Linked DNA regions of Homo sapiens. The protein of the gene in region 1 interacts with the protein of each later gene in a pairwise test. Each region holds a gene or a part of one and is shown in the gene's direction. Other genes may lie near its edges.

Region 1 (3,655 bases):
AGCAGACACGAACACACGGAACTATGAAGGACAGACCCCATTGGCTGTTTCAATAAGTATTTCTGGAAGTAGTCGACCATGTTTGGATTTCTTACAAGAAGTCACAAGTATGTAATATAATTATTACTTTATTGCATTTTTTAAAAATTTGCATCTTCTGAGGAGCTTAATGTGTTTTTGCAACTTAAGATGACTAGATATTAATCATTCCTATAACCACTGCTTGGTAAGCGATGCCTCATTCTTCTGAAATAAAAAAAAAACTTTGACTGTATCACAAGATTTCATAAAAATTCAATTGTGTTTCTAAATGTAATAGGGGTAGACAGTAAGAGTGAGGGAAGGAATGGAGAGAAGGACAGAGAGGAGAATTTTTTTTAAATGAACAAAGATCTGTGTTAGAACAAGGCAATTCCTGTTGGTCATAAGGATAATCTTACCTGGCTTCCATTGACTGCAAGTTGAGGAGTTAGAGGGGGAATTTTGGATCTTAGATTCCTTACCTGTGAAAATATCCTAGAATTTGTGCTTTATTGCTAAGTTGTTCACGTTTTAATTGTGGCTTTTCTGCTTCATGAGAGCCCACATGAAATGGAGCAGTGGTGCTGTGTATTTAGGGATACCACTCGTGGAAGTTAAGGATGCTAGAAATTGTTGTAAGAAAATATTTGCAGTGGGAAGTTTGGCACCACTGTCCCTGGACCACATGGCTTCCATTGTATTTGAACGTTTTTGTGTGGGTGCTTTTTTTAAAGCCTGGAAGTGTCTGGCCCACTTTGTGTAGTAACGCGTGCGTCCTAGTTGTTCCTCTGATGGGGTATCAGCTTGTGTGTACTTAGCCATCCTCTCTTGTCAAGCTTCCACGTGACCAGTTGAATGTGTGTCTCATGCTTAATGTCCACCATGAAGCTAAAATCTGTAAACAAAATGGATTTTGCTGTCTGCTGAACTTTTTAATGAGTTCCTTTTTCCTCACTGGTTTTGAGCCTTCGGTCATTATTATACAAGAGGACATATTAACATCCTGGGTACCAGCTACTAGAGGGCAAGGGCTCTACCTGACCTGCTTGTAAGTAACCCACTCTACCCCTTGGAGCGGGCCTTTGGAGTACACATTTGCTTTATGAAGAAACAAAATGTAATTTGAATTTTGCAGATTCATGGAAGAAAAGATGCAATTATTATCACTAATGTTTTCAGACTAAAGCGTAAGAAAAAATCACACTGCTTAGTCTACTTAGTGCTGGCCAGTACCAGTTTCTGTGATGTTGGAAATGGTCTCTCCTTGCTGTCCAGTATAGTAGCCACTGGTCCCATGTGGCTGCTGAGCACCTATTAATGTGACCGTTGCCACTGAGGAACTGAAATTTCAATTTTATTTAATTGCGATTTAAGTTTAAATGGCCACAAGTGCCTGGTGGTTCCTTTGTTGGTCCACACAGATCTGCCTGCCTTGGGAGAGGTATCTGGGGCTGACTGGTGGGTGTTCCATTGCAGAAAGCTTCTGAGACACACAGAAGTCGCCACAGTTGGGAGACGTGATACCCGCAGTGCTGCAGTCCTGCTTGCCTTGTTGTTGTTCTCTCAACTTCTACATTAGAGACTTAGTTATGATGAGTGTGGCCGCCCTTAGGAAGGCATGTTATATACTCACTTAAATGCCTCAGCCCCCTTTTTTAAAATACTTTGTTCAGTGGTTAATGGCATAGACTAGAGCTAGACTGCAAGAGTTTGAGCCTTAACTCTATCCCATGTTAGCTGTGACCTTGGGCAGGTCGCCTAATCTCTCTGTGCCTTAGTGTCCTCACCTTCAAATTAAGATAATACAGGCTTGTTATGAGGATTAAATGAGTTAATATTTATAATGCACTTAACACTTAAAATGTTCTTGTTCTTTGTAATTGTTTTTCAAGGTGAAGTGTGTAACTAATAAAGTGAGGGGGGATTAACAGCGAGGACTGGCTTGCCACCAACAGAGCAAATCTTTAGATTCATATTCAACTCAAGCCTCCCAGTTTCAACCCTGTATACAACTGTCCAGAGTCTGTACATGGAGGCACGCAGCCACGTGGCCGAGAGGAGCCGCTGGGCAGGACAAGCACGTGGGCGGCTGCCGTGTGTCCCTGAGCCCTCAGAGCTGCCCCTAGCAGTGCTGTTGGACAGCAGGAATGTTGAGTTAAAGACTCACATGCACTTTAAAATTTGAGCAGATAGAAATGTCAGTGGGGACTGCCTCTGTCTGTGCTTAGGTTCTCCACTGTACGAGGAGCAGAGCTGTGCGCCTAGGAGGTCCTCAGTAGTCCTGGCAGTCTGGCTGACTGCGCACAGCGAGGGGTGGGGACTGAGGAAGCACAGGCTGCTTTCCTGAGTGCAGGGTCCTCCGTCTGTTAAGGCTCCAGTTGTCCTTTGTCTTCAGGTGCCTCAACATAATTTAGTATTTCTTGACTCTCCAGTGGTGTTTCCTGCCAAAAGCAAATTTGGTGTTTCTGCTTCACCTGTGTGTTCTTTGGCTCTAAATAGGTTTTCTTTTCCTGGTGAACAATATGGGCTAGAAGGAGCAGCTGTGGCTGATGCTCTGGACTGAGCTTTCTCATGAAAAGCAGCTTGAAAGAAGGTTGGTTGGTTCAGGGAGCACTAAATCAAAGCTGAGAGCTTCTTCTAGCCCGCGTGCTGTGGGCACCGCAGCCCCAGGCATCATGCTGTTGGCTTATGATTGGAGATCGCAGACTGCCGAGGTATAAGGACAGCAGAGGGGCCACATGGTGGTCTTCATTCAGGGACATTTTACTCTTCATCACACTGTTTTGCCTAGAAACAGATTATTTAAATTGGAAGAGACCAAAAAAATTATAATACCAGAATTTAAAAACTCCTCTGGCCTTTTGGAAAAATTGCCGTAAAAACTCTGATCTATATAGTGCAAAAAAAAAAAAAAAACAGAGCGCACCCGTGGCTTGGTAATAAACTAACATCTGCTTGTGACTTGTTAGTGCTGAGTAGGGGGAGAGGCCATGAAGAGCTGCTGTTGCTGTTCCCTACAGCCAGCCCGCTGTCCAGCATTCAGACCTCAGAACCTCCCCCTTCCAGGACGTCAGGAGCGCAGCAGGGCCCATCCATGGAGGAGCCACTTCTCTGTGCCCAGGAATGATAAACACAGCTAAGAGGAGCCATAGCACCTGCCTGAATAATGAGCGCCACCTGTGGGAGGAAAGCTGCGTCCTGCTTAGTTGGCAGTGTTTATAAGAAGCCAGTTTTTGGTTTTTTACTTGTAGCCAAAAAAAAAAAAAAAAGAATGGAATGAATAAATTAAAGAGAGAACAGTGAAGGTGTGACCGATGTCAAGTAGAAATGGTAGTGACGGCTGGGCGCAGTGGCTCATGCCTGTAATCCTAGCACTTTGGGAGGCTGAGGCGGGTGGGTCACCTGAGGTCAGGAGTTTGAGGCCAGCCTGGCCAACGTGGTGAAACCCCATCTCTACTAAAAATACAAAAATTAGCCGGGCATGGTGGCACATGCCTGTAATCCCAGTTACTTGGAAGGCTGAGGCAGGAGAATCGCTTGAACCCAGGAGGCAGAGGTTGCAGTGAGCCAAGATTGTGCTACTGCACTCCGGCCTGGGTGACAAGAGTGAAACTCTCTCAAGAAAAAAAAGAGG
Region 2 (3,655 bases), on another chromosome or scaffold:
GGAAAACTGTTGGGCAGTTCCTTAAAATGTTGAACGTAGAGCTGACCCAGCAATTTCACTCTTAGGTAATTCATTTGAAGAGAAATGAAAACATGTTTCATGTAAAAACTTGTAAACAAATGTTCATGGCAAGATTACTAATAATAGTCAAAAAGTGGAAACAACCCAAAATGTCAGTGAGCTAATGAATAAAATGTGATTTATCCATACAATGGAATATTTTTTGTGATAAAAAGGAATAAACTAATAATACATGCTGCAATATTAGGTGAACTTTGAAAACATAATGCTGAGTGAAAGAAGCCAATCCCAAAGACCATATCGTATGATTCCACTAATGTGAAGTGTCCAGAATAGGCAAATCCACAAATTCCAGGAGTTGGGGCCAGGAGGGGAAATGACGAGTGACTGTAAATAGTATGGGGTTTCTTTTTGGGGTGATGAAAATGTTCTAAAATTAGATAGTGGTGATGGTTGCACAGTTCTGTAGATATACTAAACTTCATTACACTGTATATTTTATTTTTATTTTTATTTTTTATATTTTTTTGAGACAGAGTCTCACTTTGTTGCCCAGGCTGGAGTGCAGTGGTGCGATCTTGGCTCACTGCAACTTCTGCCACCCAGGTTCAAGCGATTTTCCTGCCTCAGCCTCCTGAGTAGCTGGGATTACAGGCGCATGCCACCATGCCCAGCTAATTTTTGTATTTTTAGCAGAGATGGGTTTCACCATGTTAGCCAGGCTGGTCTTGAACTCCTGACCTCAGGTGATCCACCCGCCTCAGCCTCCCAAAGTGCTGGGATTACAGGCATGAGCCCAGCCAAATTGTATACTTTAAAATAGTAGATTTTATGGTAGATAAATTATCTGACACAGTAAAGCTGTTAATAAAGAGTAGTTTGAATAGCTTTTGCCTTCTTGTGTAACTTGACAGAGTAAGCATCTTTTCTTTGCCTTGGAGAGTTGTCACACCCCCTGTAATTTGGATGATCTTCTAGCATTTTATCTTTTGGGCTGTCAGTGTCATGAAATACTGAGAATTCCTTTATAGCATTTTTGCCAGGATCACTTCTTCTAGGGTATCTTATCTTTTTTGTCACTCACCACTTTTATCTTTTATGTTGGTAATTTGCTTTCACTAAGTTCCTCAACACTGGCATTGTCAGCCTTACTACCACAGTCAGCTTTCTTCTATAACTCCATTTATGTTCTATTTTATTTTCATTTCCAGCATTATCACTTTTCATTTCCTGTTTACTTTTATATCTTTGCCAATTATCTTGTTTGATTATTCTTTTTTGTAAGTAGTCATGTGGGTTTATTACTGGAAGACAAGGATGCAATGAAACTGCATACTTTGCTGTCTGCAGTTTAACTGAATAAACAAATGACTAATAGGTTGTGTTTACATTTTTTAAAAATTTATTTATTTAATTTTTTCAAGCAACAGGATCTTCTGTTGCCCAGGCTGGAGCGCAGTGACACAATCAGAGCTTAAACTCCTGGGCTCAAGCAATCCACCCACCTCAGCCTTCCGAGTAGCTGGGACTATCTCGGCAGTATGCCGCCATATCCTGCTAACTTTTAAAATTTTTTTGTAGTGATGGGGGTGTCACTGTGTTGCCCAGGCTGGTCTTAAAATCCTGGCTTCAAGTGATCCTCCTGCTTCAGCCTCCCAAAGTGCTAGGATTACACACCATGCCAACTAATAGATTTTGAAAGAAGTATTGTGGTTAGTCATTGTTACTTTTGTCATGATTTGTGGATCAAAGAGCTAGAAATAAAGTTTTTACTTCATGCAGTTAAATTTATTATATAGTGTCAACTGAAAGTTGAGCTTTGTTCTTGGGGAATTGGTATTATTTAACTGTACTGTGGTAACTGAAATTCATACATACTAAAAATGCGCAAAGCAGGGACCCCTTGTAATACCGTATTTTGTTTCTAAGTAGCAAATTTCATAGGTATTAGACAATAAAATTCTAATAAATGAGAAAAATTTTGTATTAAAACATTTAAGACTTAGTTTTTCTATTAAAATTTTTCCCAGTAATATATCAGATTATGTATTTATTACCTCTTCCTTCTTTGGTTTATATTTATAGGAAGTTGGTATGCCAGCGGATTATGTAAACAAGCTTGCTAGAATGTTTCAGGACATAAAAGTATCTGAAGATTTGAACCAAGCTTTTAAGGAAATGCACAAAAATAATAAATTGGCATTACCAGGTATTATTTTATAATTACATGTATATATTTTTTAAACTTAGAAGAATATCTTTGTTTTCCAGTAAATTAAAAATAAACCTCAGCAGTAATAGATCGAAAGATGTTATGAAGTCCATTTCCGTGGAGACAGCTATCAAAGCAGTGTGTTAGATTTACAGATCTTTATTTCAAAACAAAAGGACACTTTTAACAAAATCTTTATAGTCTTATTGATTTTTCACCCAAAGTTACCCTGTATTTATTTTGAATTTTATCCATTGTTAATTTACTTTATATTCCTGATATTCTTCTCTATAGCTGATTCAGTTAATATAAAAATTCTGAATGCTGGCGCCTGGTCAAGAAGTTCTGAGAAAGTCTTTGTCTCACTTCCTACTGAACTGGAGGACTTGATACCGGAAGTAGAAGAATTCTACAAAAAAAATCATAGTGGTAGAAAATTACATTGGCATCATCTCATGTCAAATGGAATTGTAAGTAGATAGTGTGTTAGTTATTTCAGCTTTCAGTTTGGATGAAAGTAGCAGGACTCCGCAGAATTGCTTAAACAAAATAGATTTTTGCCTCTCTCACATGTAAAAGTTTGAGCAGAAATAGTGAATTTTTTTCATGAAGTTGATAGGGACATAGGCTTCTGGTTATACCATCATACTTAAGATACTGCCGTTGTCTACAGAATTCAACATGATCCCAACTATCTCAGTATTCCTGGCAACAGAAAGCAAAAGGTGAGGGTAGCTTACACCTTTCATTAGGGACAACTTCTAGAAGTTTCCTCTGTCATTTTCCATTTGCATCCGCCAGTACTCAGTCACTTGGCCACATTTTGTTACATGGAAAGCTGGGAGATGAGCGTGTATTCTGGGCAGTCATTAACGTCTTCTAAAATGTTTATTACTGTGAAAGAGTGGATACTGGAAGACAGCAACCTTTTTCATATATAAATTCATGTCATAGATATTAAGAGAGAATCATCATGAGATTCTTTATTAAAAATCTGTTTTATCTATTATAGATAACATTTAAGAATGAAGTTGGTCAATATGATTTGGAGGTAACCACGTTTCAGCTCGCTGTATTGTTTGCATGGAACCAAAGACCCAGAGAGAAAATCAGCTTTGAAAATCTTAAGCTTGCAACTGAACTCCCTGATGCTGAACTTAGGAGGACTTTATGGGTTGGTTTATGTTTTTTTGTTTTTAAGACTGTATCCTCTCATGTAGCAGGAAATATATGATTGGCTTGTAATATATTAGTAAATTCATAACAGTTTCAGAATGTCTTATCAAGAAAAATAGAGGCCGGGCACAGTGGATCACGCCTGTAATCCCAGCACTTTGGAAGGCCGAGGTGGGCAGATCACTTGAGGTCAGGAGTTCGAGACCAGCCTAGCCAACATAGTGAAACCCCATCTCTACTAAAAAT
Region 3 (3,655 bases), on another chromosome or scaffold:
AATGATCATTCTAGCAATTGTGGATCATTTTGCTTTAGGTTATATTTGCATTAGGAAACTCTCAGTGCAGGGCACAGACATCTAATTTGAACAAGGTGATACATAAAGGGAAATGTATTCTCTGATGAAACAAAACAGCAAGAAGAGCAGGGATATATCAGGGGCTTAGGGATTATTGGAACAAGGGATGTGAGTGCTGCAGAGCTTTCTCCATCGCTCTGTTCCACGTTTCTTGGTATGTCTGCTTCTTCCTCCCATGAACTAGCTGCTTCCATATAATGAGGAATTTACCAGACTAATATCTTCCTGCAACTGAACACAGTTATGGTGACTGTTCATCTTTCCCCTCGTCTGACTAGAAAATTATGGGGAGAGCAAGGTTTGGCTTTCTTCTGTGCTCACCCCACTGGCCAGAAGGTGGGGTATTACGAGTGATAGCCCAAGAACATGTGCTTGGAAAGAATGAGGTGTTCTAAGCAGACAAAGTAAATAGGTGGCCTATTGTTTCTCCTTTTATGACTTGGAATAAAAGTGGTTCTAATAGTCAATGAATCTGAAATGACACAAAATATTAGATTGTTTCATATGCTGTGAAATCTTTAGTTTTGACAATTCTAATTCAAGTGTTAGGATGGATACTTTTCAGTAATAAGTGAAATTCATACAATTTACTTTTGCTTTATGCTAATACAGAGTGCTGCTCCATACAAGGAATGGTTTGAAGAACTGTATATAGATAACTAACTGCTCTGATATGAATACTATAGGAAAATACTATGATTGGGGATTTTTGTCCATATAATAAAACAGTTATTGAAGTCATCTAAAGTAAGATCACTTTATGAAATACTTTGATAACATGAAGACTGAAAATAGCAACAAACAGGTCTACTTCATTTTCAAGGGAAAATAATAATGTTTATGTTTAATTTTTTTCATTACAAAATATTGTGGGGGAACTTAGGCCATCAAGAAAGAATATAATAATCATGAAAATAGGTCTTTTTAAAATCATGGCTAACTTGTTACAAGTGAGTATTGGAAGAAATCAGACCCTAACATTTGTAGGTGTAGAGCAGATACTGTGGCCCATGGGCACAAATGGCCTGCAACATGTTTAGGTCCACAGAATGTGTGTGTTTGGTTTTGTTTTATTTTTATGAGCTTGTTTTAAAAACCAGGAAGATTTCATCTACAGTTCTAGATTTTTCCCTACTTATTTTTAAAAGGATTTGAAAGATAAAACAATCAGTGAAATGGAATAGACTATCCAAAGGTAATGCAGATTCATATGGAAATTGTGTATATGATAAAGGCAGCATTTCACATCGGAGGAGAAGACAGATATTCAGTAAAAACATACGACATCTAGCTGTCCATTTGGGATGAAATAAAGCCCCAATTTTTTATACTTGTTAAGTCAATAAAAATTCTAGATGGAGCAAGGATTTTAAATGTAGAAAACTATTACTAGGACCCCTAGGTTCATCAGTAATTAGAATAGTTTTATCTAAATGGCTTTAAATGAGACTTAAAGGAGTAGAATAGCCTGTGTGCCAAATCATATGTTTCCAGTTAAGTCCTGCAATGTATTGTAAAGGAGAATGATGTGTGCTTTTGGAGTCAATAAGATCTAGGCTTAAATCTTTTTCCTACTGTTTACTCAGATTTTTTGTGAAGTACAAAACTACACTGAGCTTTAGTTTCCTCAACAATCAATCCATCAACATAAAATGAAATGAATAAAGAACATCTACCATGGGGAGTTGCTGTGAGAATTGGATGAGATTATGTTATGTGAAATTCGTACCCAGTTCCTGCCTAGAAGTGACTGTTAATAAAGTTTTCATGTAGAAGGACAAAGAAACAGTGAGACCTTCAATAGCTATAGGACACTGGCCCAGAGCAGATGTTTGTTTGAGAAAGATGAAGAAATTTCTTGACATCTGTTTCCATCTGCAAACACTTATTGAGAGCCTACTGCATGCCATGCATTATATTTGGCACTAGAACAATAAATATCAAAATAGAAGAGATTACAACTTTAAAAAATCTTGAATGGAAAACTCAGGTCTTATAAGAAAGGAATTCAAGGCCGAGCATGGTGGCTCACACCTGTAATCCCAGCACTTTGGGAGGCCGAGGCGGGCGAATCACCTGAGGTCAGGAGTTTGAGATCAGCCTGGCCAACATGTTGAAACCCCATCTCTACTAAAAATATAAAAGTAGCCAGGCTTGGTGGCAGGTGCCTGTAATCCCAGCTACTCAGGAGGTTGAGGCAGGAGAATCGCTTGCACCCAGGAGGTGGAGGTTGCAGTGAGCCAAGACTGCGCCACTGCACTCCAGCCTGGTTGACAAGAGCAAAACTCTGTATCCAAAACAACAACAACAACAACAACAAAGGGATTCAAGCAGTGAGAATTTTTATAGTATTTGACTACTCCCTTAATATTGTTACTCACCCTAAGAAAACATTTTCTGATGTGCTGTAGTATCTTGTGCTAGTTAAAGGAAACATGTAAAAGTAATTTCCTAAGAAAAATGAATAGCATTGTTTGGCTACAACCATGAAAGATCTATTTCTCAGGGTAGCTATTAAGAGAGAATGCATTACCAGAGATGGAAAACTTAGGAAATTGCTAAGTAGTGAATGAAATGGTGCTTATTTTTTTTTTTAATGTACCTCTGTTTTCCACTTAAGTATTTTTGCTGGTTATTAGCATTTGCTTGGACTTAGCTTAGCAAATCATTTGTTCTCACTAAATGAGGTTGTAGAGAATTCCTAGGTCTGTTTAGCTAATATTTGGTAAATAATATAATACAAACTATTTTTTTCAGTAATTTTCCATTAATACTCTAATGTAGAGTAATACACTTGAGATGGGCAAAACACTTCTGAGTTATCACGTAGCCTGGGCTTATTGCACTCCATGTACCTAATCTATTGTTCTGGTATTATTTACATAACTAAAATTTTGGTTCTGATATTTACCAAAATTGAGGAAAATGTAAATTGTATGCCATATGAAATTAGGTTTTATGTTACACCTATGTTCACCTACTAATACATTTAGTATCTGTACCAATCCATTTGCCATGGCACAATCATTCTAGCATGGGACATACCTTCATTTTCAATACAGAAGCTTATGTAGAAATATTGCATCTTCTGAGCATTCTGTATAATATGTGCTTTGGTAGATACTGTCAATAAAGAGACTTCTTTTTATCTCTTTTTTTTTAGTTTGCTGGAAACCATGTCTCATTATACAGATGAACCCAGATTTACCATAGAGCAGATAGATCTGCTTCAGCGACTTCGGCGTACTGGAATGACTAAACATGAAATTCTCCATGCCTTGGAAACTTTGGACCGTCTTGATCAAGAGCATAGTGACAAGTTTGGAAGAAGGTCCAGCTATGGAGGAAGTTCATATGGGAATAGTACTAACAATGTCCCAGCATCTTCCTCTACAGCTACAGCTTCCACACAGACGCAGCATTCGGGAATGTCCCCGTCACCTAGCAACAGTTATGATACTTCCCCACAGCCTTGCACTACCAATCAAAATGGGAGGGAGAATAATGAGCGATTATCTACATCCAATGGAAAGATGTCACCAACTCGCTACCATGCAAACAGCATGGGTCAGAG

What was found.
Region 2: the proteins of ASB7 (region 1) and CUL5 interact in binary tests that used the Homo sapiens proteins (3 or more experiments, as listed by UniProt).
Region 3: the proteins of ASB7 (region 1) and HMBOX1 interact in binary tests that used the Homo sapiens proteins (3 or more experiments, as listed by UniProt).

The regions. Positions count from the first base shown.
Region 1 is NC_000015.10:100,629,936-100,633,590, forward strand, and holds part of ASB7 (ankyrin repeat and SOCS box protein 7), read left to right. Parts: coding exon 1-107; coding exon of another isoform or gene 108-115; exon of another isoform or gene 116-274; intron 275-3,655. UniProt on the Homo sapiens protein: Probable substrate-recognition component of a SCF-like ECS (Elongin-Cullin-SOCS-box protein) E3 ubiquitin-protein ligase complex which mediates the ubiquitination and subsequent proteasomal degradation of target proteins.
Region 2 is NC_000011.10:108,092,285-108,095,939, forward strand, and holds part of CUL5 (cullin-5), read left to right. Parts: intron 1-2,106; coding exon 2,107-2,230; intron 2,231-2,527; coding exon 2,528-2,703; intron 2,704-3,245; coding exon 3,246-3,407; intron 3,408-3,655. UniProt on the Homo sapiens protein: Core component of multiple cullin-5-RING E3 ubiquitin-protein ligase complexes (ECS complexes, also named CRL5 complexes), which mediate the ubiquitination and subsequent proteasomal degradation of target proteins.
Region 3 is NC_000008.11:28,966,799-28,970,453, forward strand, and holds part of HMBOX1 (homeobox-containing protein 1), read left to right. Parts: intron 1-3,244; coding exon 3,245-3,655. UniProt on the Homo sapiens protein: Binds directly to 5'-TTAGGG-3' repeats in telomeric DNA. Associates with the telomerase complex at sites of active telomere processing and positively regulates telomere elongation.